5 separate regions of the Homo sapiens genome follow, and regions 2, 3, 4 and 5 are each linked to region 1. The links come from fine-mapping of genetic effects on gene expression. A gene starts in region 1. Each other region holds a variant in brackets. All regions are shown on one strand. Distances are from middle to middle.

The links. PIP is the estimated chance that this variant, and not a neighbour inherited with it, causes the effect. A credible set is the group of variants that fine-mapping cannot tell apart.
Region 2: its variant is the best candidate, but not a certain one, in a credible set for the expression of WDR11 in whole blood (INTERVAL, PIP 0.77).
Region 3: its variant is the best candidate, but not a certain one, in a credible set for the expression of WDR11 in whole blood (INTERVAL, PIP 0.51).
Region 4: its variant is the best candidate, but not a certain one, in a credible set for the expression of WDR11 in substantia nigra (GTEx, PIP 0.56).
Region 5: its variant is the best candidate, but not a certain one, in a credible set for the expression of WDR11 in whole blood (TOPMed, PIP 0.52).

The regions. Positions count from the first base shown.
Region 1 is chr10:120,848,664-120,853,760 of GRCh38, reverse strand. It overlaps WDR11 (WD repeat domain 11), which reads right to left and starts at 2,399. Exons shown (of 29, transcript NM_018117.12): 1 at 2,255-2,399; 2 at 1,126-1,237. The coding sequence starts at 2,340. It overlaps WDR11-DT (WDR11 divergent transcript), which reads left to right and starts at 2,582. Exons shown (of 3, transcript NR_033850.1): 1 at 2,582-3,067. RefSeq lists enhancers at 1,915-1,974, 1,669-2,212, 1,985-2,454, 2,615-2,734, 2,213-2,757.
Region 2 is chr10:120,886,633-120,891,737 of GRCh38, reverse strand. It overlaps WDR11 (WD repeat domain 11), which reads right to left. Exons shown (of 29, transcript NM_018117.12): 16 at 4,902-5,049; 17 at 2,554-2,660; 18 at 1,729-1,843; 19 at 851-1,022. Among named protein-coding and RNA genes, the nearest start is that of WDR11, 38 kb to the right of the region's middle. The variant A/CAAAACAAAAA (reference allele first, on the strand shown) is at 2,500.
Region 3 is chr10:120,922,140-120,927,244 of GRCh38, reverse strand. All of the region lies in intron 2 of LOC105378519 (a long non-coding RNA gene), which reads left to right. Among named protein-coding and RNA genes, the nearest start is that of WDR11, 73 kb to the right of the region's middle. The variant A/G (reference allele first, on the strand shown) is at 2,209.
Region 4 is chr10:120,913,262-120,918,366 of GRCh38, reverse strand. All of the region lies in intron 2 of LOC105378519 (a long non-coding RNA gene), which reads left to right. Among named protein-coding and RNA genes, the nearest start is that of WDR11, 64 kb to the right of the region's middle. The variant C/T (reference allele first, on the strand shown) is at 3,030.
Region 5 is chr10:120,824,505-120,829,609 of GRCh38, reverse strand. LINC02930 (long intergenic non-protein coding RNA 2930) reads right to left here. Exons shown (of 5, transcript XR_002957103.2): 5 at 4,299-4,845. All of the region lies in intron 1 of WDR11-DT (WDR11 divergent transcript), which reads left to right. Among named protein-coding and RNA genes, the nearest start is that of WDR11-DT, 24 kb to the left of the region's middle. The variant G/A (reference allele first, on the strand shown) is at 2,474.

The sequences.
Region 1 (5,097 bases):
TCTTAAACATGACTTCTCCATGCCCCAGCTTTATTTTAGGCCCTTAGAATTTCCCACCAAAATTACTGCAGAAATCTCCTAAATGATCTTACTGCCTCCAGTCTTGCATTTCTTCAGCAGATCCTCCACTGCTGCCAGAGTTTTTCTAAGACGCGAATATGGTCACATCAATCTCCTACTCAAAAATCCAAATTCCTGCTGGGCGCGGTGACTCACACCTGTAATCCCAGCACTTTGGGAGGCCAAGGCGGGTGGATCACGAGGTCAGGAGCTCGAGACCATCCTGGCTAACATGGTGAAACCCGGTCTCTACTAAAAATACAAAAAATTAGCTGGGCATGGTGGTGGGTGCCTGTAGTCCCAGCTACTCAGGAGGCTGAGGCAGGAGAATGGCGTGAACCCAGGATGTGGAGCTTACAGTGAGCCGAGATCATGCCACTGCACTCCAGCCTGGGCGACAGAGTGAGATTCTGTCTAAAAAAAAAAAAAATCCAAACTCCTTCGTAATCTTACAAAACTTCAGGACAGACAGCTGAATCTCTCTGGCTGCCTCTTATTTCATCACTCCTACAAGTGTCCCATCTTTAGCCATCTTTATGGCACGCTACTTACTTCTGTGTATATTCTTGCTTTTCCCTGCAATGCTCCTTGTCAATTTTTTACTTGGCTAACTACTGTCTACTAGTCTTGAAACTGTAGACTTCTGTGACTCTCCTCACAACCAGGCAATATGCAGCTCCTCTGTTTTCTCACAGCGTGTTACGCAAGTCTCACTTATCACACTATCACGCTGTGAGTCTTCCTTATAAGATGGAGAATTATCTGAGGGCTTTCATCTCCATATCCATAGCATATGGTAAGTGCTCAAAACTAAGGAATGACTGAGTGGTCTTGTAAATGGTAGAACTTTCATCTGCCTTAAAATGATCTAACAACTAGCATTTAATAACTCACCCTGTATTGACATTAAGTCATATATATGAAAATTCTAGGCTACCCCAAATAGGTTGTTATATTTAAAAGCTATTCAACACTTACACGTAAGACTTAATGAGAGCTTAGTGATACACAGTATTAAACTTTAGACTAGACAACATGTTAGCGTCAAAGTGGGATTTTACTTACCTTTACAACATCAGCTTTATGCTTTTCTAAAACTTGAAGAGTTTGGGCAGTAATGGAATCAATCACTACCACAAGTGAATGACATCCATAAGCAATTAAACCTTGCCAGCCCCTAGCAAAACAGTAATGTTAAAGTTTAAGTACAGAACAAAGCAGGACGACTTCTTTCTTGCCAAGCCTAAATAAATGATAAGTCTAATTCATATGTACCACCATTAATAAAATCATTTAAACCCAAAGGCCAGTATTTATCATTATCCCACTTAAATAAAAGATCTGGCTAAGCTTAAAATGCTTGTTGAAATTCACTTTTCATTCGGATAAAAAAAGTTCTAAAAGATATGAAAATAGAGACCCGAGGACATAAAAAGGAACTTGTGCCCTCTGACTGTTCTTGTAGGCATACGTCTTTCGCTTATCCGATTTCTAATCCTTAGTATCCACAATGTGCCTGGGGATACTGCGACTAATCCTAGTCCTTCCAACTAAATAAAACGACAAACACTGCACAAGACGTTTCAGTCCTCCTAACAACATCCCACAGCCACAGAATTTTGCTTTACATTTGTCTAATGAGTAGTTTTCAGAGCTGCAGTAGTAATTTATAGTGAAAGGAGAGAGTAATAAAGACGACCTGTTGAAGGCAGGAATGTTCTACACAGGAGGAGCCCGAAAAGAGGTGAAAAGGACAGGTGAAAGAACAGGCGCCTAGCACAGGGTCTGGCACATTGTTGAAAGACAACAGGAATACAAGACAACGAAAAAGAAAAGACAGGATGGGAAAGAGAAAGTGCACAGGGAATTAATGGTGGAGAGAGAGAAGCCTGGAAGCTGGAGGAGAGGAAAAGAGAGAGGAATGGAACGGCAAAAGGGCGAGGTGCAGAGAAAACAGCAGAGAAATACGCGAGAAAGAGGGGAAATGTATTTGCATGGGGGAATTTCCCACACGGGGCTATTATCACTTTTGTAACAACAAAAATCCACCAACTGAAAGCAAGCTCATTGCGTGAGGGCGGCTCCCTGCCTTAGCGAGGCCAAACTAACCAGGGGGTGAAACCTCTTGTCCTTCCCCCTTCCCCCTCACACATTCCTGGCCGATCCTGGCGACCTGGAAGCTCGGCGTCCTCACCAGTCCACCGCCGCCTTGTTGTGGGCGTTGAGGGCCCCCGTGAGGGTGCGCGCCGACACCTTGAAGTTCACTGTGTAGGGCAACATCCCGGCGGCCAGCCCAGGACCTGGGCGCTGACCCGCAACCAGGAAGCGGCGGACACTGTGCTTCCGTTCCAAACAGAGTCCGGGTGGCCCCCTCGGCGCCGCTGTCAGGTTCCTCTAGATTCAAGTTCTACAGGCTCCGGGTTCCACCGCTCCCGGATTCCATCGCCCCCAGGTTCCGTTGCCTTCAGTTTCCTAGGATCCTAGGTTCCGCACTCTCCAGAGTTCCGCCGCTTAGGCGGTTGTGCTAATCTGCGTCAGCTGGGGCTGTATTTGGAAGAAGAGGCGCTGCCTCCAGTCAAGTCTGTTTTTTTCAGGTGGGGACTGTAGGCCTTTGTGCCCTGCTGGAAATCGTGAAAAGCAAGAGAGAAGAGTCCCAGTTATTCTTGCTGCCTTTGATAAGTGAATTTAGGGCAACTACTAGTGCCAGTAGGCATGGGGGATCTACCGATGAAGAAGACACAAAGTCTCCGCTCTCGTGGAGTTTACAGAGAATAATGAATGAGATTAATTAAGAAATGAATGAGATTAATTGAATGAAATTGCCAGACTGAATGAAGTGAATGGCCTGAATATAAACAATTTCCAAATACAGATAACACTGCATATCTGGTGTTTGCAATACTCCCTTCGCACTTGAGGAAGAAGCACTATGTCTGGGGCCAAGTGTGACCCTTTGTCTGTTGCTGGGTACCTTTCATTTCGCACTTTCTCCTCTGCTGCTCTCCAGGTCAGACCCAGTCCTTCCCTCCTTTGTGTTCAGTGTTGGGTTTATACGCTTTAACTATAGCACTTAATGCAATGATTTCTTTTCAGCAATGATATTTGCAGATGTGTGTTTCTCTCCCCAATACATTGTTAGTTTCATGCGCGTCCGTGTGAAGAGACCACCAAACAGGCTTTATGTGAGCAATAAAGCTGTTTATTTCACATGGGTGCAGGTGGGCTAAGTCCGAAAAGAGTCAGCGAAGGGAGATAGGGGTGGGGCTGTTTTATAGGATTTGGGAAGGTAATGGAAAATTAGTCAAAGGGGGTTGTTCTCTGGTGGGCAGGGGTGGATCTCACAAAGTACATTCTCAAGGGTGGGGAGAATTACAAAGAACCTTCTTAAGGGTGGGGGAGATTACAAAGTACATTGATCAGTTAGGGTGGGGCAGGAACAAATCACAGTGGTTGAATGTCATCAGTTAAGGCTGTTTGTACTTCTTTTGTGGATCTTCAGTTACTTTAGGCCATCTGGATGTATACATGCAAGTCACGGGATGCGATGGCCTGGCCTGGGCTCAGAGGCGTGACATTCCTGCCTTCTTATATTAATAAGACAAAACAAAATAGTGTTGAAGTGTTGAGGCGGCGAAAATTTTTGGGGGGTGGTATGGAGAGAGAATGGGTGATGTTTCTCAGGGCTGCTTCAAGTGGGATTAGGGGTGGCGTGGGAACCTACAGTGGGAGAGATTAAGCTGAAGGGAGGTCTTGTGGTAAGGGGTGATATTGTGGGGATGTAAGAAGAAACATTTGTCGTATAGAATGATTGGTGACGGCCTGGATACGGTTTTGGATGAATTGAGAAACTAAATGGAATAAGAGAAGGAGAAAAACAGGTATAAAAGGTCTAAGAATTGGGAGGACATAGGACATCTGATTAGAGAGTGCCTAAGGAGATTCAGCATAGTCCTGCCAGCAAAGATTATTTATTTACTTCAAGAGTTTAGAGTGGCAGTTTGGGGATAGCACCAGGAGATATCAGCTGTGATGGCTTGGAGAAACAGTGTAAACCGGCAGTGTAAACAAGAGCAGGGCATGTATGAGTAGTTGAGAATGGTGAATAGGAGTATGACTACAAAAGATAGGGATGACAAGTTTTTTGGGGCACAGTCTAAGTTGGTCTGGTGTCAAATGAGACTGGGGCCTAATAAAAAGGAGCGTCTATACAGGAGCTTAAATGGGATGTACCTTGTAGCATTCTGAGGACAGGCCTGAATTCTGAGAAGCGAAAGTGGTAAAAGTATTGTCCAGTCCTTTTTAAGTTGGTGGCTGAGCTTGGTGAGCTGTCTTTTTAAAAGACCTTTAGTCCGTTCTACTTTTCTTGAAGACGGAGGCCTGTAAGGGATATAAAGGTTTCACTGACACCTACTAAGAGCCTGAAAAACTGCTTGGCTGATTTGACTAATAAAGGCTGGTCTGTTATCAGACTGTATAGAGGTGGAAGGCTAAACTGAGGAATTATGTCTGACAGAAGGAAAGAAATGACTGTGGTGGCCTTCTCAGACGCTGTAGGAAAGGCCTTTACTTATTCAGTGGAAGTGTCTATTTGGACTAAGAGGTATTTTAGTTTCCTGACTCGGGCATGTTGAGTAAAGCTAATTTGCCAGTCCTGGGTGGGGGCAAATCCTCGAGCTTGATGTGTAGGGAAGGGAGGGGGCCTGAATAATCCTTGAGGAGTAGTAGAATAGCAGATGGAACACTGAGAAGTTATTTCCTTGAGGACAGATTTCCACGATGGAAAGGAAATGAGAGGTTCTGAGAGGCGGGCTAGTGGCTTGTACTATAGCATAGCCTGCCTTTGCTGGTATGTGGCGATTAGGCCTGGTGGAACTGCCATCAATAAATCAAGCGTGATCAGGGTGAGGAACAGTAAAGAAGGAAATATGGGGAAATGGGGTGAATATCAGGTAGATCAGAGAGATACAGTCATGGGGGTCAGGTGCGGTATCAGGAATAATGTGGGAGGCCAGATTGAAGTCCGGGCCAGGAACAATG
Region 2 (5,105 bases), 38 kb before region 1:
AGTGAAAAACCAGGTTTTTAAAACCTTACTGTGTCTGAAGTGCCAAATATTGACTCTACAAAGGTTCAGAAAAGTCTCATGAAATTTTCTACATATCAGCCTAGAGTGTGCACCAAAGTTTTGCTGGGAGAATACTCAGGCAAGAAGTTCCCTCCTCCACTCCAAGTAGGATCAAGTATCTTCCAAGGATGAACACTGTATTGCATCAGCCAAAAGCTGCCTTTTAAACTGATAAATGGATGCATTCACAATTGTCCCATTCTTTTTTTTTTTAGAAGTCATATATGGAGTATATTCTACTAAAATGCTTTTTATTCTGGTAAAAAGCAATGTCAAAACAACCATACAAAACAGAGCAAGATACTGCAATCTGCTAATTTGCTTGACTGGTCATTTTACTAGTCACAGATTGGCATCAAAATTCATAATACTCAGAACACTTTCTAAAGTGACTTTTCAATGATATATGGTTGCAAAAGACATAAGGCCATTATTAAAAAGCCAGCAGCCTTATCACTAGATTTATGTCCTCTGATGAGTTTGCCTAAATTCTGAGTAAGCCATTTTTATAAACATAAACATCTTTTATCTTGTTAACAAACCAAAGAAAAGAGTCAAAAGGGGCACTTAAAAAACCTGAATTGAGAATGATTGACATCTATAGTTACAAAGATTGCAGCATCTCAGCAGTAAAAACACTCAAGCTTCAAGTTAATATATTTTCTTAAACTCAGATTCTAAGAAAATAAGACTGAAATGAAACAGAAGCAGCAGCTCTCTCCCCAAAATACAAGAGCTTGTGGCAAAGTAAAGACAGGTTTCAAAGCCCCCTATCATTAGGATTCCATACCGGTTAACTCTTGTTCATCCATTCTAAAGCACGCAGACTTCATAGACATCTCTAGGACTCTGATGCACCCATCATCTGAGGCCAAGATCACTTTATCTGACGTACACCAGTCCACATCCAATATACGAAAGGTCACATTTCTGCCACTTCTTAAACTGCTCACCATCTGAACCTTCAAGAGTGAATTTGGGCATCACTTCCAGACAGAAAAGGAAGATCTTTATTATTCTAGATTAAATGGTCAAGGAAGACAGTCTGTGGCAAAGGCCCAGTTCAAGTTTAGAACTGAACAGCCTCTGGCAATCTATCTTCCACAAATAGGCAGCATTTTAAAGGTCTCAGAGACAGTGATAATATTAAAAAATAAATAAATCGGCTGGGCGCGGTGGCTGACGCCTATAATCCCAGGACTTTAGGAGGCTGAGGCGGGCAGATCACCTCAGGTCAGGAGTTTGAGACCAGCCTGCCCAACATGGCGAAACCCTGTCTCTACTAAAAATACAAAACATTAGCCGGGCGTGGTGGCACATGCCTATAATCCCAGCTACTAGGGAGGCTGAGGCAGGAGAGTCACTTGAACCCAGGAGGTGGAGGCTGCAATAAGTCGAGATCGCGCCATTGCACTCCAGCCTGGGCGACAAGAGTGAAACTCCATATCAAAATAAAAAATAAAAATAAATAAATAAATAAATAAATAAATCTTGAGTTGTTACCTTTAGAACACAAATACTGTAAAGTAAAGAAAATAATTTGTTATGGGAAACTTGACGAACTCATTAAGTACTTTTCATTTCTAAATCAGAAAGAAGTTTTTTAACAAAGCACAGTTCCTATGGCTAACAATTTATTTACGTTTTATCCTCATGGAGAGGGCCTACCTCTTTAGTATCCCACACTTCAGCTCCATCATTGTACATTGCTATTAATTTTTGATTTCCTTTACCAGGAGCAAAACGAATCTTCCTCACCCAACTTCGGTGTGTGGGTATTCCTCTGAAGACAAAGAAACAAAAACATCAATACAATGTAGAGTGAGATCTGGTCACCAGAAGCTATGTCTAACATCTCTCACTATTTCCATTTCTAACAGGTCTGATGATGGGAGAACCCTTTACTTGCTGGGACTGGGGGCCACATCTGACAGAAAGGGCCTGCCCTTTAAGGTCAGCTAAGACTTCTGCAGGGGCCACTTGCAGATAACTATCTCCTAAGAATGCTTGGCTCAAGGCCCATCCTCCCAAGTTTAGGTGAAGGGACCCAAGGGTCCAAGCTACACCTCCACGAGTTTACTGATCCTTCTTGCCAAGTCACAAGCCTCTAATGGAACCATATCAAGATGTCATTTTTTGGCCGGGTGTGCTGGCTCCTGCCTGTAATCCCAGCACTTTGGGAGGCCGAGGTGGGCGGATCACGAGGTCAGGAGATCGAGACCATCCTGGCTAACATGGTGAAATCCCGTCTCTACTAAAAAAATACAAAAAAATTAGCCGGGCGTGGTGGTGGGTGCCTGTAGTCCCAGCTACTCGGGTGGCTGAGGCAGGAGAATGGCATGAACCCGGGAGTCAGAGCTTGCAGTGAGCCGAGATTGCACCACTGCACTCCAGCCTGGGCGACAGAGCAAGACACCATCTCAACAAAACAAAACAAAA[A/CAAAACAAAAA]GATTTCATTTCTTTTTTTTAATGAAATAACAAGATTTCATTCTTGGCTTATACCTGGATACTCTGCCTTTCAAGTCCCAGAAATTTAAATTTCCATCCATATCTCCAAGCACTAATGTATCACCTTTCCAAGCGATGCAGGTAATACTACCCATACTTCCCTAGAAAACAACAGCAACAAACAAATATAAATTTCACTATGCTGTATAAGACATTATAATAAATATTTTAATAAAACTTAATTTAAAGGGCTGTGCTTTAGTATGCTTTTAGTCATCAAATCCTAAAACAGACTTTAGACACTAACAAAGAGCTACATTGCCTATCAATTTCAACTATGAAGAAATAGGAGATTTCAACTTCATAGACATTAAGTAGTTACTGGAACTAGATTTAAAGAGAGGGGATGTCTTTTGAGGAACAAATACCTCAAAAAAAAAAGGGGGAAATTAAAGTAAGAAAAACAGAGAAGTAAAGGGAAGGTTTTCCAGAGAGCCAACTCAAACTTATCTCTCACTGCAAAAGGATAACTAAATCCATTCCAAGGGAAACTTAAAGCTCTTTTATAACTAATTGTGCCGTGATTTTTCTATTGAAAAAAGGATCCAGAGCTTCACTGACACGTTTTGGAACATTGTGGAATCATGAAGGTGAAGAGATGCTGTTTACTAAAGGCATATGCAGTTTAAATTCACAGAAAGCTTTGCTCAGAAGTTACATATAGAAGCACAACATAAGAATGAAATGCTGCTGTAGTCAATCTAACTTGGAGGAAGAAAGGAACTTGCAGTTCTAATAGATGCTCAGAGGTGGTATCATGGAGGGCTCAGCAGCCTGGGCTCTGCAGTCACACTGCCTGGGCTTGAATCCCAGCTTGAAACTGGTATGTGATTTGAGGCATGTTTACTTAACCTTTCTGTCTTGGATTTATTGTCCATAAAGTAGGGTAAGTTCATGAAACTTGAGTTGTTGCTAGTATTAATAAATTTATAAAGGCAAAGGCCTTAAAGCAATGCCTGCCATGCAGTAAATAGTCAATACATGTTAGCTATTAAATAATATTACTGCTCAATTACTTCTCTATTTATTAAAAGAAATTTTATTTTTGCATTTATTGTACAACATAAAAATTCAAATGGTATCCATGGTAAAAAGTAAGAAAACTCTAGTGGTTTGAATAATTGACCATTAGTGGACTAGCACACACACTGAATACCGTAAAAACTCTGGTAATAGTCAAGAAACAAAACAAAAACTGGATTTAAAAATCAATATTATAATAAAGTCCATTAATAAAAAAAAATATTAAAGAAATGAAATTCTGTATATAATATGAAGCAACATTTTAAGATATCTACTTTCCTAGCCATAAAATAGAATGTTTAATTAAGAAGTTGCCTTTGAAGAGACTTCTGAAACCAGGTCATAATAGACTCTGCAACTTCCTTCTTGCTTTATCAGATCACTTACTCTAGGGGAGGCCAGTTGTCATGTCGTGAGGACACTCAAGCAGCCTTATGGAAAGATCGACATGAAGAACTAAGGTCCCTCGTCAACAGCCAGCATTAATGTGCAATAGCCTGTGAGGCAGCCAACTTGGAAATAGATCCTTCTGTCCCATTACACTTCAAAAGACTGTAGCCACAGCCAACATCTAGATTGTAACTTTATGAGACCCCAAAGCCACCTATAAAATTATGGGGGTTGGCATTCTACTAGAGCATTCCATTTTTAGATAGCAATTTAAAATAAATATACCTATTTTAAAAAATCCCCTCATGCCTTCATTTAACCATTATAATAGCCTGCATTAATTAACATAAACATTTTCATGATCCATCTATTAAAAACTATCTATGAGATGCATGCTGACACAAATGATTAATGGCAAAACTTTAGTTACAGATTCCACAAGGCCATAAGAATATATGTAAGTTAGTAAATGTTAATAATACTATTACACTTACAACCTGATTACTATTATCCAAAAATAATACTAGATTGTAAGTCAAATCCTTCAGGGTAATGCCTGAAATGGAAAGAAGACAGATACTGAAGTCAGACAGGCCTGAGTTTAAAACACTGCTCTGCCATATGAGTAAGCTGGATAACTTTGGGAAAGTTACTTATTCTCCCACAGTTTTGTTATGGGTAAAATGGAGATAACTCCTCATGGATTATTACAGGGATAAAAATGAGTAGCACACAGTAAACATTTAATCAAAATAGTTACAGCGTTATTCTCTAGCAGTATGGAACAAGTTTAATCGATAATATCTCCTTAAATAAAGTTTATTTACATTAGGCTTTTCTGAAGTTTCCAACTTAACTATGCCTTCACTGGATATGGAACCAACAAAACAAAATCTTCTTGATGAAGATTTAATCAAGGTTGTACTCACATCTGGTGGAATCCGAGCACTGTCTTTTACTGAGTTTCCTTCAACAGTGAGATGATACACTTGGCCATCAATATCGGTAAATACAAAATGTTCCCGGGCAGAGATGTTCTGACTAAGTTCAGATTTACTTTCTGCCTCCTGCAGCAAGCTTTGGGATAGTGAAACATATGATAAAGATGTTTTTTTTTCCCCTAGAGTGATACT
Region 3 (5,105 bases), 73 kb before region 1:
AAAGGTCCCCATTACCTGTGCATCTCCTTCCAAGGCAGCTCAGTGTCATCACAGCAACCGTGCTGATTGCCGACAGAGCAGGGCAAGCACCAAGCTCTGACAACACCCTGGAGGCTGTGGGCAGCTCCTCTCCAGTCTCCCACCCCAGCAGGCTGAGACGGTTCTAAACGAGCCCTGCAATCTGGAAACGGTGCTGCAGAACCACTTCCCTGCTGTAGCTGCTGCAGGACTCCCCTCAGTTCCGATCTTTTCTTTCCCCTCCCTGAGTTTCCCTCTGCCTGCCATGGCTTTGCCACCTTCTTGAGCTCCTGGGGCTCTTCGGACCACACTGAGGCTGGTTCCTCTGCAGGAGGGACCCTGGCTGGATCCCCTCGCTGAGCTCACACCGGGCCCTCAAGTGGCATGTGCCCTCCCGCCTGCTCACTTCTGCCCCACTGTCCATACTGCCTGCAGGGGTCTCCTCTCCTGCTGCCAGCCTCTGGCCGGCCCCCTACCTGCAGGGCTGCTCCCTGGCCCCCTTCACTTACCTACATCTCCTCCCACCTCCCCAGAACTGCTGCCCTCCCCACTCAGTTTCCATCCAAGCCCCAACTCTGGTATTCCCAATGACCCCAGCTGGCTGCTCTCCACTGCAACCCTGCATCCCCCGACAGGGGTGGTGAGTCCCTGGAAGAAGGTGGTGGCTCAATAAGTACTTGGAGCTTGGTGGTTCCCATGGATGGGATGGGGCTGGGGGTCCGGTCCGGGGGTGCAGGGATCAGGGGCATAAGGCAGCAAAAGGACTGGAGAGACTTTGTTTCCCAGGCAGGAGGAGACCTGCAGAGGGTGAGATTCTCAGGGGAGGAACTGCCAGAAGCCTAAGAGCCTTTTTCCAGAGCTGCCTCCAGGAGAGAAGGTGATCTACCTGGCTCCGGATCAAGTCCTTTCTGCTCAGAACAAGCTTTCTGCACTTGTAGGGTGGGTGATTTTAGAGATTTGGAGAGTCAATCTTTGCTTCTTTCCTTTTTTCTCTCTCTCCTTCCCAGTCCCACCCACTCTAATCCCAGCTCCTGTTTGTCCAAGCCCCTCAAGCAAGACTCTCTTTAGTGAGTGAAAGCTGACAATGTGAGTCTCAGCCTCCTTCCCAGGAGCAGCTAAGCTGACAGATCCTTGATCTTGAGAAGCCCTCGCAGCTCCCTTCTCTGACTCTCAGCCACCCCTGGAGGGAGACCCTATTATCGGGAGACCCTATTATCACCATTTTACAAGTGAGGCTCAGGTGATAACTTGTCCAAGGCCAGGCAGCCAGATTGCCGGGAAGCAGGTGTTCCCAGCGCCGCTGCTTTCACCCTGTTCCACATCTCTGGTCCTTGTGTTTAGAACCATTCTTGAGTGGGTTTGCCAAAGGCAAAAAGCAAAACCAAGGCTTGGCTGACAGTTACTGAGGCCCTCTGAAATGTGCATTGGCAATTCCAGAAACACAAGCTCAGATCAGATCCTTAGCATTTAAATGAACTTATGTCAGGTTTGCTACAATATGATCTGCTGGAACAGCTTTCTAACTCCTTAACGGGATGAGGTATATTTTCCTTGGCCTATTCTAGGCAAAGATCAGCAACTTCAAACAAGGAGCTGTTCTTCAAATAAATTCCTCATTGATACACATTTTTGAAGAACACTGGGAAGTAAAAACCTGGAGGACTGAATTGTGTTGTTGGGCAGATAGTTCTTAAGAAAATGATCTGCATCATGTCTGCACAAATCAGCCTTAAGAAATCTCTTGTTTCTTAGGATTCCCTCCTTTCCTTCCATAACGTACCTGTGCAAACATAGTGGTTTGCCAATTTCCTCCTTGAATTGTCTCCATTGGATTATATTGCAGACTTGTCCATTTTTCACTTCTAATTATTGTTCTACTTCCTGGCTCAGCTCTGTGGGATTATTTGAAGCCCCAGTCATTGGGCCCTGTAGGAGTCCCTGACCTGAGATGCACTTCCCAAGAGGGAGGTACGTGGGTCCCTGCACCCCATGGATTCTCTTCTACGACAGTAGTGCATGCCACTTATTTGGGACATAAATATTTTTTCATCTTCTAGCCTGCCTGAAGTATTTTGGCTTAAAAATGATGGTAGAATGCAAAAGATTGGAATAAAGTGAAGATCTCATAGCAGAACGTGTTCAGAAGTATCTGGAGTAAAATGGAGATTTGCTTAAAAATATTTGATAATG[A/G]AACGGCACTTGGAGTTAAACTTTTCAATCATCTGTTGATGCCTTTGACCTCAGATTTATCAACAATAATGTGTCCGGAATTGGTGGGTTCTTGGTCTCACTGACTTGAAGAATGAAGCTGCGGACCCTCGCCGTGAGTGTTACAGCTCTTAAGTTGGCGCGTCTGCAGTTTGTTCCTTCTGATGTTTGGATGTGTTCAGAGTTTCTTCCTTCTGGTGGGTTCGTGGTCTCCCTGGCTCAGGAGTGAAGCTGCAGACCTTCGCGGTGTGTGTTACAGCTCATAAAAGCAGAGTGGACCCAAAGAGTGAGCAGTAACAAGATTTATTGCAAAGAGCAAAAGAACAAAGCTTCCACAGTGTGGAAGGGGACCCCAGCGGGTTGCCACTGCTGGCTCGGGCAGCCTGCTTTTTATTCTCTTATCTGGCCCCACCCACATTTTGCTGATTGGTAGAGCCGAGTGGTCTATTTTGACTTGGCGCCGACTGGTGCGTTTACAATCCCTGAGCTAGACACAAAGGTTCTTCACGACCCCACTAGATTAACTAGATACAGAGTGTGGACACAAAGGTTGTCCAAGTCCCCACCAGAGTAGCTAGATACAGAGTGTCGATTGGTGCATTCACAAACCTGAGCTAGACACAGGGTGCTGATTGGTGTGTTTACAAACCTTGAGCTAGATAGAGTGCCTGCTGGTGTATTTACAATCCCTGGGCTAGACATAAAGGTTCTCCACGTCCCCACCAGACTCAGGAGCGCAGCTGGCTTCACCCAGTGGATCCCGCAAAGGGGCTGCAGGTGGAGCTGCCTGCCAGTCCCGTGCCGTGCGCCCGCACTCCTCAGCCCTTGGGTGGTCGATGGGACTGGGCGCCTTGGAGCAGGGGGCGGCGCTCATCTGGGAGGCTCCGGCCGCATAGGAGCCCATGGAGGGGGTGGGAGACTCAGGCATGGCCGGCTGCAGGTCCCGAGCCCTGCCCCGTGGGAAGGCAGCTAAGGCCTGGCGAGAAATCGAGCTCAGCGCCGATGGGCTGGCACTGCTGGGGGACCCAGTACACCCTCCGCAGCCGCTGGCCCGGGTGCTAAGCCCCTCATTGCCCGGGGCCGGCAGGGCCGGCCGGCTGCTCCAAGTGCGGGGCCCGCCAAGCCCACGCCCACCCGGAACTTCAGCTGGCCCGCAAGCGCCGCGCGCAGCCTCGGTTCCCGCTCGCGCCTCTCCCTCCACACCTCCCTGCAAGCTGAGGGAGCCGGCTCCGGCCTTGGCCAGCCAAGAAAGGGGCTCCCACAGTGCAGCGGTGGGCTGAAGGGCTCCTCAAGTGCCGCCAAAGTGGGAGCCCAGGCAGAGGAGGCGCCGAGAGCGAGCGAGGGCTCTGAGGACTGCCAGCACGATGTCACCTCTCAATAAGACTAAGGTCAGCCTGGCGGATAAACCTTGGAGTCTCCTGGGCCCATTCCCATGGCAACATGGGCCTATGAAGAAGCCAGATGGGACGGAGCTTATAACAACAACCTTCTAAGGAGGTAGGTTCTAATGCACCTAGCTGCAGAAAAATTACAAAGGACCTCATACCAGTCTGTAAACAATACGGCAGTTAGACAGCTGAGATTTCATCACCAGGAAGCATTTCGACCCTAGAGAAGGAGTTATTGAACTATTTTTCTGTAAAGGCCCAGAGAGTAAGTATTTTAGGCTTTTCAGGCCACTTGATTCCCTTCTAGCTTTTCAACCCTATCATTGAAAACAGTCAGACAATGAACAGGTGGGCACAGTTTTGTTGCAGTAACACCATATTTCTAGAAAGAGGCAGGGATTCGGGCTGCCGGCTGTGGTTTGCTGACCCTAAACCTGCAACATCACTGACCAGGAACAGGAACAGGAACAGCAGAGGCCGCATCGTGTGTAGCTTTTCTCGCTCTGCTTTCACGTCGGCTGCCTTGCTTCAAGTGGTGGCTCACGCCTGTAATCCCAGCGCTTTGGGAGGCCAAGGCGGGCAGATCACGAGGTCAAGAGATCGAGACCATCCTGGCCAACATGGTGAAACCCTGTCTCTACTGAAAATACAAAAAAATTAGCTGGGCATGGTGGCATGCCCCTGTAGTCCCAGCTACTCGGGAGGCTGAGGCAGGAGAATCTCTTGAACCTGGGAGGCAGAGGTTGCAGTGAGCCAAATAGCGCCACCGCACTCCAGCCTGGCTACAGAGCGAGAGCTCCGTCTGAAAACAAAAACAAAAACAAAACAAAACAAAAAATACCCTAACTGCAAAGCGAAAATTGACCCCTCTGGTTACATTTTGTTTTGGTTTTGGTTTTTGAGACAGAGTCTCGCTATGAGCCAGGCTGGACTGCAGTGGTACGATCTAGGCTCACTGCAACCTCTGCCTCCTGGGTTCAAGCGATTTTCCTGCCTCAGCCTCCCGAGTAGCTGGGACTGTAGGCACATGCCACCACACCCAGCGAAGTTTTTCTATTTTCAGTAGAGACAGGGTTTCACCATGTTGGCCAGGATGGTCTCGATCTCTTGACCTTGTGATCTGCCCGCCTCAGCCTCCCAAAATCTGGTTACATTTTTAAGGCAGTGATTACTGAGGATTGTCTTTTTATCTGTTCTTAAATTCTCAACGATTTGTTCAAATCCTGTCTTTCTGAAGCAGCCCATCAGAGCCTCTTTTTTTTTTTTAATTATACTTTAAGTTTTAGGGTACATGTGCAGATTGTGCAGGTTAGTTACATATGTATACATGTGCCATGCTGGTGCGCTGCACCCACTAACTCGTCATCTAGCATTAGGTATATCTCCCAATGCTATCCCTCCCCCCTCCCCCCACCCCACCACAGTCCCCAGAGTGTGATATTCCCCTTCTTGTGTCCATGTGATCTCATTGTTCAATTCCCACCTATGAGT
Region 4 (5,105 bases), 65 kb before region 1:
CTTCCAAAAGCGCAGCTCCTCCTTCCTTCTTTTAAAGTGGCAGCAACATGTCCTTGATTAAAACTGCCATTACGTTTTAATTAAAAGGGTTCTTTCATTCACAAGTCATTTTGAGTCAGTCAAAATAATCTCATGCAGGCTCCCAGAGAAACGGCCCCGTTGCCTGGAACATTCTCCCTTGGGTGCCTTCCCTGCGTGGCCCTCTTTTATTTCAGCAGCACAGTTACAAGTTTGTGCCTGAATGCTTTACTTCAATCACATCCTGTTGCTGAGAATGGAATATCCTGGGTAGTCACAGAGCTCAGGATTCACTGAAACCTAACACCATCCTGAGGCAAGAGGAAGCCTCAGGAAACAAATAGATGAGAGAGAAATTGTTTTCTTATTTCATTGTGTCTACATGTTGAGACTTTCTGATCGGGTACCTGTGTGAGAGGGACATGAGGCTTGTATGAATCTGCTCTGTTATCTCTTTTGAAAGAACAAAATGTCCTGCTACTACGTCCAAAGCAATGATTAAACCTAGAGCAAGACCGTGGTGGGGCAGCCAGCCACATTTGGCAGAGCATTTCGTTAGCAACAGAGGAGGAAAAAGGTAACGGTGAGCAGTAGGAAATGGCTCAGAGACCAGTCAAGGGGAAGCACCTACCACCCACCACCTGGCCTTCTTCCTGAAGAAGCCCCACCTCCAGAGTGGCTCCTCCACCCCCACCCAGGCTTTGTGGCAAAGGGAAGGGCCCAGGCCTTGCCCAGCAGCTTCTGTGGGGGCTGGCACTGGGGCCAGGGTCTGCTGTCCTGAAGTAATTCTCAGTCTTATTCCCAATTTCAGCTGCTTGTTTCAGCTCGTGAAGCCACCTCATTAGTGTGTTGACAACACGTATTCTTAATGATCTTTCGTGAAAAGATATTCAGAAAGGCTAAATGTGAAAAACAATTCATACTTGTTCAGCTCTTGATTTCCAATGCTTGATGGAGGTGAGTATGGCAGTTTTCAGCAGTGTGGCTGTGAATATCACCAGAGATCACCTGTTCTGTTTGGAAGGGGATTTTCAGTGGTGTCTCGACCAGGCTTGGTCTCTGTGTCCCCGTGGGAGTCCTAACTGCTACACTAGCCAGCTGGACTGACACAAACCCAGGCTCTGGGCCTTGTCTGCTCACTGTGTTTATACCGAGCTGCCGTGCCTGGCCCTGCTTCACTCTCACCATCAGGCAATGCCTTAGTACCTATTTGTTGGCCTTAATCCAAAGCATTTTCATTTTTCAGAAAGCACGACTCTGGTATAAAGTTTCTTCTTTCTCTCTGCTTCGCAAGTCTCGTAATTCACATGTTGAAGCCTTACCGTCCAGTGTGATAGTATTTGAGGGTTCAGCCTTTTTTTTTCCTTATTTATTTATTATTATACTTTAAGTTTTAGGGTACATGTGCACATTGTGCAGGTTAGTTACATATGTATACATGTGCCATGCTGGTGTGCTGCACCCACTAACTCGTCATCTAGCATTAGGTATATCTCCCAATGCTATCCCTCCCCCCTCCCCCCACCCCACAACAGTCCCCAGAGTGTGATGTTCCCCTTCCTGTGTCCATGTGATCTCATTGTTCAATTCCCACCTATGAGTGAGAATATGCGGTGTTTGGTTTTTTGTTCTTGCGATAGTTTACTGAGAATGATGGTTTCCAATTTCATCCATGTCCCTACAAAGGGCATGAACTCATCATTTTTTATGGCTGCATAGTATTGCATGGTGTATATGTGCCACATTTTCTTAATCCAGTCTATCACTGTTGGACATTTGGGTTGGTTCCAAGTCTTTGCTATTGTGAATAATGCCGCAATAAACATACGTGTGCATGTGTCTTTATAGCAGCATGATTTATAGTCCTTTGGGTATATACCCAGTAATGGGATGGCTGGGTCAAATGGTATTTCTAGTTCTAGATCCCTGAGGAATCGCCACACTGACTTCCACAATGGTTGAACTAGTTTACAGTCCCACCAACAGTGTAAAAGTGTTCCTATTTCTCCACATCCTCTCCAGCACCTGTTGTTTCCTGACTTTTTAATGATCACCATTCTAACCGGTGTGAGATGGTATCTCATTGTGGTTTTGATTTGCATTTCTCTGATGGCCAGTGATGGTGAGCATTTTTTCATGTGTTTTTTGGCTGCATAAATGTCTTCTTTTGAGAAGTGTCTGTTCATGTCCTTCACCCACTTTTTGATGGGGTTGTTTGTTTTTTTCTTGTAAATTTGTTTGAGTTCATTGTAGATTCTGGATATTAGCCCTTTGTCAGATGAGTAGGTTGCAAAAATTTTCTCCCATTTTGTAGGTTGCCTGTTCACTCTGATAGTAGTTTCTTTTGCTGTGCAGAAGCTCTTTAGTTTAATTAGATCCCATTTGTCAATTTTGTCTTTTGTTGCTATTGCTTTTGGTGTTTTAGACATGAAGTCCTTGCCCATGCCTATGTCCTGAATGGTAATGCCTAGGTTTTCTTCTAGGGTTTTTATGGTTTTAGGTCTAACATTTAAGTATTTAATCCATCTTGAATTGATTTTTGTATAAGGTGTAAGGAAGGGATCCAGTTTCAGCTTTCTACATATGGCTAGCCAGTTTTCCCAGCACCATTTATTAAATAGGGAATCCTTTCCCCATTGCTTGTTTTTCTCAGGTTTGTCAAAGATCAGATAGTTGTAGATATGCGGCGTTATTTCTGAGGGCTCTGTTCTGTTCCATTGATCTATATCTCTGTTTTGGTACCAGTACCATGCTGTTTTGGTTACTGTAGCCTTGTAATATAGTTTGAAGTCAGGTAGTGTGATGCCTCCAGCTTTGTTCTTTTGGCTTAGGATTGCCTTGGCGATGCAGGCTCTTTTTTGGTTCCATATGAACTTTAAAGTAGTTTTTTCCAATTCTGTGAAGAAAGGCATTGGTAGCTTGATGGGGATGGCATTGAATCTGTAAATTACCTTGGGCAGTATGGCCATTTTCACAATATTGATTCTTCCTACCCATGAGCATGGAATGTT[C/T]TTCCATTTGTTTGTATCCTCTTTTATTTCCTTGAGCAGCGGTTTGTAGTTCTTGAAGAGGTCCTTCACATCCCTTGTAAGTTGGATTCCTAGGTATTTTATTCTCTTTGAAGCAATTGTGAATGGGAGTTCACTCATGATTTGGCTCTCTGTTTGTCTGTTGTTGGTGTATAGGAATGCTTGTGATTTTTGCACATTGATTTTGTATCCTGAGACTTTGCTGAAGTTGCTTATCAGCTTAAGGAGATTTTGGGCTGAGACAATGGGGTTTTCTAGATATACAATCATGTCGTCTGCAAACAGGGACAATTTGACTTCCTCTTTTCCTAATTGAATACCCTTTATTTCCTTCTCCTGCCTAATTGCCCTGGCCAGAACTTCCAACACTATGTTGAATAGGAGTGGTGAGAGAGGGCATCCCTGTCTTGTGCCAGTTTTCAAAGGGAATGCTTCCAGTTTTTGCCCATTCAGTATGATATTAGCTGTGGGTCTGTCATAGATAGCTCTTATTATTTTGAAATATGTCCCATCAATACCTAATTTATTGAGAGTTTTTAGCATGAAAGGTTGTTGAATTTTGTCAAAGGCCTTTTCTGCATCTATTGAGATAATCATGTGGTTTTTGTCTTTGGCTCTGTTTATATGCTGGATTACATTTATTGATTTGCGTATATTGAACCAGCCTTGCATCCCAGGGATGAAGCCCACTTGATCATGGTGGATAAGCTTTTTGATGTGCTGCTGGATTTGGTTTGCCAGTATTTTATTGAGGATTTTTGCATCAATGTTCATCAAGGATATTGGTCTAAAATTCTCTTTTTTGGTTGTGTCTCTGCCCGACTTTGGTATCAGAATGATGCTGGCCTCATAAAATGAGTTAGGGAGGATTCCCTCTTTTTCTGTTGATTGGAATAGTTTCAGAAGGAATGGTACCAGTTCCTTCTTGTACCTCTGGTAGAATTTGGCTGTGAATCCATCTGGTCCTGGACTCTTTTTGGTTGGTAAGCTATTGATTATTGCCACAATTTCAGCTCCTGTTATTGGTGTATTCAGAGATTCAACTTCTTCCTGGTTTAGTCTTGGGAGAGTTTATGTGTCAAGGAATTTATCCATTTCTTCTAGATTTTCTAGTTTATTTGCGTAGAGGTGTTTGTAGTATTCTCTGATGGTAGTTTGTATTTCTGTGGGATCGGTGGTGATATCCCCTTTATCATTTTTTATTGCGTCTATTTGATTCTTCTCTCTTTTTTTCTTTATTAGTCTTGCTAGCGGTCTATCAATTTTGTTGATCCTTTCAAAAAACCAGCTCCTGGATTCATTAATTTTTTGAAGGGTTTTTTGTGTCTCTATTTCCTTCAGTTCTGCTCTGATTTTAGTTATTTCTTGCCTTCTGCTAGCTTTTGAATGTGTTTGCTCTTGCTTTTCTAGTTCTTTTAATTGTGATGTTAGGGTGTCAATTTTGGATCTTTCCTGCTTTCTCTTGTGGGCATTTAGTGCTATAAATTTCCCTCTACACACTGCTTTGAATGCGTCCCAGAGATTCTGGTATGTTGTGTCTTTATTCTCGTTGGTTTCAAAGAACATCTTCATTTCTGCCTTCATTTCGTTATGTACCCAGTAGTCATTCAGGAGCAGGTTGTTCAGTTTCCATGTAGTTGAGCAGTTTTGAGTGAGATTCTTAATCCTGAGTTCTAGTTTGATTGCACTGTGGTCTGAGAGATAGTTTGTTATAATTTCTGTTCTTTTACATTTGCTGAGGAGAGCTTTACTTCCAAGTATGTGGTCAATTTTGGAATAGGTGTGGTGTAGTGCTGAAAAAAATGTATATTCTGTTGATTTGGGGTGGAGAGTTCTGTAGATGTCTATTAGGTCCACTTGGTGCAGAGCTGAGTTCAATTCCTGGGTATCCTTGTTGACTTTCTGTCTCGTTGATCTGTCTAATGTTGACAGTGGGATGTTAAAGTCTCCCATTATTAATGTGTGGGAGTCTAAGTCTCTTTGTAGGTCACTCAGGACTTGCTTTATGAATCTGGGTGCTCCTGTATTGGGTGCATATATATTTAGGATAGTTAGCTC
Region 5 (5,105 bases), 24 kb after region 1:
GATCCCCAAATTGTTTAATCAATTTGAGTTGGTTTTCTGTTACTGCAGCTTAAAGCATCCAGATTGACCTACTTTGACACTGAAAACAATACACCCTTCAAAAGTTGAACTGTGGTGTAAAATATTGGTATAAGCAGTGTCTGAGGCATTCTTTAATAAGAGCCAGTGAACAGTCCACACTCCTTGTCAGTGGATGGCATCAGATGCAAAAGGCACATCTGCCTCCTATCAGGATGCATCGGGCTCCTCTGAAAGCAGGAAGCATCCAGCTCCTGCGAAGTCAGGAGGCATTGCCTGTGAAGGCAAGCTCCCATGTGTTCCTGCAGCATCAGAGCTTGGCAGGCCCTGTTTTTGACCAGCATTGCAGCCGCCCAGCTATAGTCTGGACACTCAGCCTTGAGTTGCTCCACTGCTTTTCTTAGGACCTCACTCTGTTCTTGATTTCTCCATTGCTATCCCAACAGGCAGGGCAGGGCCGCAGTCACCGACTTGAGTAGTGCTTTTATTTATACTCATGATTAATTTGTGGAGGCCCAGGGGGAAGACAGCAAGTGAAAAGCTGTTGCCTGGGAAATAAGATTCTTTTCAGAACTTTCTGAGAAACATTGAGTTTTTGATGTTTCACACAAAAAAACAGAGCTTCATGTAAGAGCTGAGCCACCAGGGAAACCCTCCTGTGTCAGGCTAGAATGCAGGACTTCAGAGCCTAAAGTCTTTTTTGACTTTTTACTCTGCCTAAATGTTTTAAAACTGGCTTGAGAGAAAATTTGCACTCTCCTCTGAAAGTTAGATCCACTCTTAATAAACTCCACACTGACAGAAAATTCTAACAGCAGCAGATTCAGGGGGACCCCAGCCAGCTCTGCCTCTCCATCCTCCCTGGCTGGTGTTGGCTTACTCTGTGGCATGTTCCTCTTTTTTGGGCCCTCACAGAGAGGATATCTGTGGGACCTGGAGAGGACAGGATTATATACCATGGAGGAACTCCCTGTTTTCCCTTGCGATAAAAGCTTGTTGCAACAGAAGCTGAATTTCAAGGGTAGCATAACAGTAGGTTTAATAAAATATTAAAAACCATGCCATCTTAGATGAGTATAGGGATGCTTAGATCACATAAAAAGATGCTCCAAATCAGAATTTTTGGTTGCAGGGGACAGAGAACGAACTCAAAGTAGCTTTAACAAAAAGAGAATTCTTTGGCTCACAGAATCCAAGAAAGGAAAACTTCAGAAAGGAGAGGGGCACAGGTGAGACAATCAGAACTAGGGAGTCAAGTACAGACTAGACTCTCCCTGCATCTCTCCTTTCTGCTTCTCTCTCAGTGTTGGCTTTTTTCTCTCTTGCTGCAGACTATTTTTCACCAGATGGCTGGCAAGGTGACTGTCAGCAGGTTTTCAGCTATATCTCATTGCTTCCTATAGCTCTTTCTCAATTCCAGAACAACTCATGAAGAAGAACTTGAACTCACTCATTTGGATCAGATACTTGGAAGAACCCTGTTTGGCCAGGGAAAGCCAGAGATCTCATATAGCCATGTGGATGGGGAAATGTTTCTGGAGGAAGGAAAGGGTTCACAGACAATCCCTGAAAGGCTCACTCTACAGAGCCTTGACTATGTAGGAGAATCAGTCAGCAAACATCACAGCTAGAATTCACTGTGAAGATCACCTTGTCCAGGTAACCAGGAATCAGACTGATCAAGGGAATATCAATGGTCACACAACACATTACAGGGAGAGGAGAGACTACTACCGAGGTCTCTTGGAGTTGTATTTTTTGCTTTTCTCTATATATACTAGAAATACAGTAAAAAAAATTGAGTGTGTTTGTCCTCGAAAGAAATGTACTTCTCAATTTCTTATGAATCCCGTGACATACAGAAATTTGTAGACTGTGGTGGCCTGTTATTGTTATTGCTGTTGAAAGAGGAATTGAGAATCTCTACCTTCTCCTATGTTAGAAAGGAGGAGGGGTAAGGGACACTCCCATAAGCCAGGTGCTGTGCTCAGGGCTTCACATTTGTCATCCCATTTAATTCTCACAGCCCACTATGCGCAGGAATCCGCATTTTACAGATGAGGAAACTGAGACTTGGTAAAATAAGGTAACTTGCCTAACATCTCCTAGTGAGTAATGCTAGGGCTTGCTGGCAGGCAGCAGGTTAGAGATCCTCTCCATGGACCCCCCATGTGTGTGGGGTGGGGGTGCAGGTAGTTGGCTGAGAATCTGCTCAGTTCTGATGGACTCTGCCATCCCTGCTATAGACTCCTAATGAATCTCTGAGGGATGTTTACTATTAAGAGTTGCCTGTCCTCTATTCTCCCTGTCCCAGCAGGAAAGACAGCAGCCCTGGGAAGAGACAGATACCTGAGTCCAGGTAACTAGAAGCCACCTTCAGTCTAGGCTCTAAATCGGCCTGAGGAGACCCTTACCACACCCACCTCATTGCCTGGGCCTTGAGCTCAGCAGCACC[G/A]ATACAAACCATTGTTTGGAATGTTATCTATATCTTCTCTCTAAACAAGGAGTAGGCCAAACCTTTTTTTTTCTTCTTCTTCAAAATTCAGATATTTGACTTTCAAATATCTTTCATAAGCACATCATAATGAAAGTGGTGGGTTATCCAGATGGGGCCTTTTTGCAGTTTTGCCAATTAGATTACAATATGTATTTATTCCCTTAATGGTCTACAAAGAGGCTAAATTCTTTCATAATGTCACCTTGTGACAAAGCTGACAATGCTAATGAAGTAACTCCTCTCCCTATTGCCCCCTCCCTCAGAGCAGTCATATCTTACCATTTCATCTCAGAAACTCTTCACACAAAATCACTTGAAGTGCTTTGGGGGACTGTATTGTAAGGATGAATTTGTGCCATGAGTGTGAAATTCAATTTATATATTTTCACCTGGTTGTCCAAGTATAAGAAGGCTTTTCCAGTGCTTAATGGAGCTGTTTATCTGTAAATATAAGCACTAATGCAATGTGATTTGCATGGATCTGGAAGCTGCCTTTTTTCTCTGGCATGAGTACCCAGTAAACAAATAAAAGGGCTCTGGAATCAGGCAGAATTGCAAATGGCCTCTTTTCTCATGGAGAGGGTGAATCTCCAAGGAACCATAGAAATGAGCCAGACTGTACAATCTCATTGTCAAGGCACTTTGATTCCTAATCTAGAACATTCTCTTCTGAATTTTGATTCAGTGCTTCTGAATTCTGGTAATAGAAGCCCTTTAAGATCAAGAATGTCTGGAATTTAGACATAGAAGCAAGCCTGGCCACGATGATAGCTCTATCTCAGTAATCCTATAGAAATTACTGCTGCTGCTGTTATTATTGCATCAATTTCTTATGTAGAAATTTGCAAACTGTTTTAGAATCATTTCTTGCAAAAAAACAAGTGCTGACTATTGTTAAAGAGGGTTCAAAAATTGCTGACAACTAAAGAAAGACTCTGATGAGGAAGTAAATAACCGAAATAATAACCAAGGCTAATTATAGAAATCTGAGAAGAGATGATGTTGCATATAATAATGACGGTAGTAGCTCACACTACATAGTGTATGCTGTGTACTAAGTGGTTTACATCATTGAACTGATTTAAGTGTTAACCACCTGAAGAGGCAGGTATTACTGTTATTTTATAGATGAGGAAACTGAGGTTCAAAAAAATCAAGTAACTTGCACAAGCTTATACAGTTACAAAGTGACAGGGCCACATTCAAACCTAAACCTGTCTGACTCTAAATCTTGAGCTCATCACCACCAGCTCATTCTTTCAAATGCTAAAGGTAAGCGTTTCTCACTCCCTGATTTTGGGTGCTATTCCAGGTACCATCACTGTCCGAGGTAGAATCGACTCAGGTTTGTACACTGAATCCTACTTGTACAAAGCACTAAAATGGTGGTTCTCATACAGGGATGGTTTTGCCTCCTAAAGACATTTGACAATGTCTGGAAACGTATTTGGTTGTCACAAATTGGGAGAGAGTGGGGAGGTGTTGCTGGCATCTAGCAAGTGGAGGCCAGAGGTGCTGCTAAACATCTTGCAAAGCACAGGACTCCCGCCCTCGCCCCTCCCCCACAACCACCAAAGAATTATCCAGCTCCAACGTCAATAGTGCTGAGGTTGAGAACCCCTGTATTCCATAAATTACCACTTGGATTCTAAGTAAAAATAGAGCAATCATACTCTTTTGCCCCCTTTTGATGTAGTGTGGCATTTGCCAAGGAAGCAAATTACAGTCTTGGAACCAGCCACAGATGCTGACTCTAAAATGAATGGATTCTCAAAGATCCCACTGGGTGGGTGGACCAGATATTTTATTCTACAAACCAGGACACTGTGAACGGAGACATGAATTATAATTACTCCATGACAACAGGCATGAACCTGGAAGAATGCTCTCCCCGCAACCTGAGTTTCACTGGTGAAAGCATGTTAATTGCAGAAGCCAGTGCGGCAGAAAAGATCAAATGCTGCAGCACGTGTCTTGGCAACGTCTTCAAACTCCCCCAACTTAAAGGTGCATTTTCCCACCAAGAACTCAAAACCAGATTAGATTTCCAAAGGCCCTTCCGAGGTCCCTCTGCTCTCCACAAGGGTGACACTTAGCGCCATCTGTTGGTGTTGTGCAGAGCTGAAAAGCTTTTGCTCTGCAGCCAGTTTCGCTATTTTTGAAAGTTCATCATTTGAACGTTGGCAAGTCAAGGATCTTCTATAGTTCAGTTTGTCTTGGCCAACACCCCGCCAGAGAAGTCATGTGTCATGGTTGTTTTGGATAGTAAAGCAAGTGGGCAGGTCTGGAATCTGAGTCTCTAGGTGCATTACTGAGCCCAGTTATTCTTTCTGTCAAAAGAAGAGGCAAGTGGTATCACGTGTTAAATACATCCCCATGGGTATAACTAGATTTCAAGAAAAGCTTGAAATTTTTTTATTACAGCCATATTTAACAACCATAATTTGGTAGTTAGGTGACTGAGGTGTGTGCCAACTGTACTCCATCCCCTTCTTCCACTCAAGAGGGCATATCCAAATGGAAATGAGTAGATGTAATTTTATTATAAGGATACTCTTGGATACTCCCTACTTTATTATAAAGAGATTTA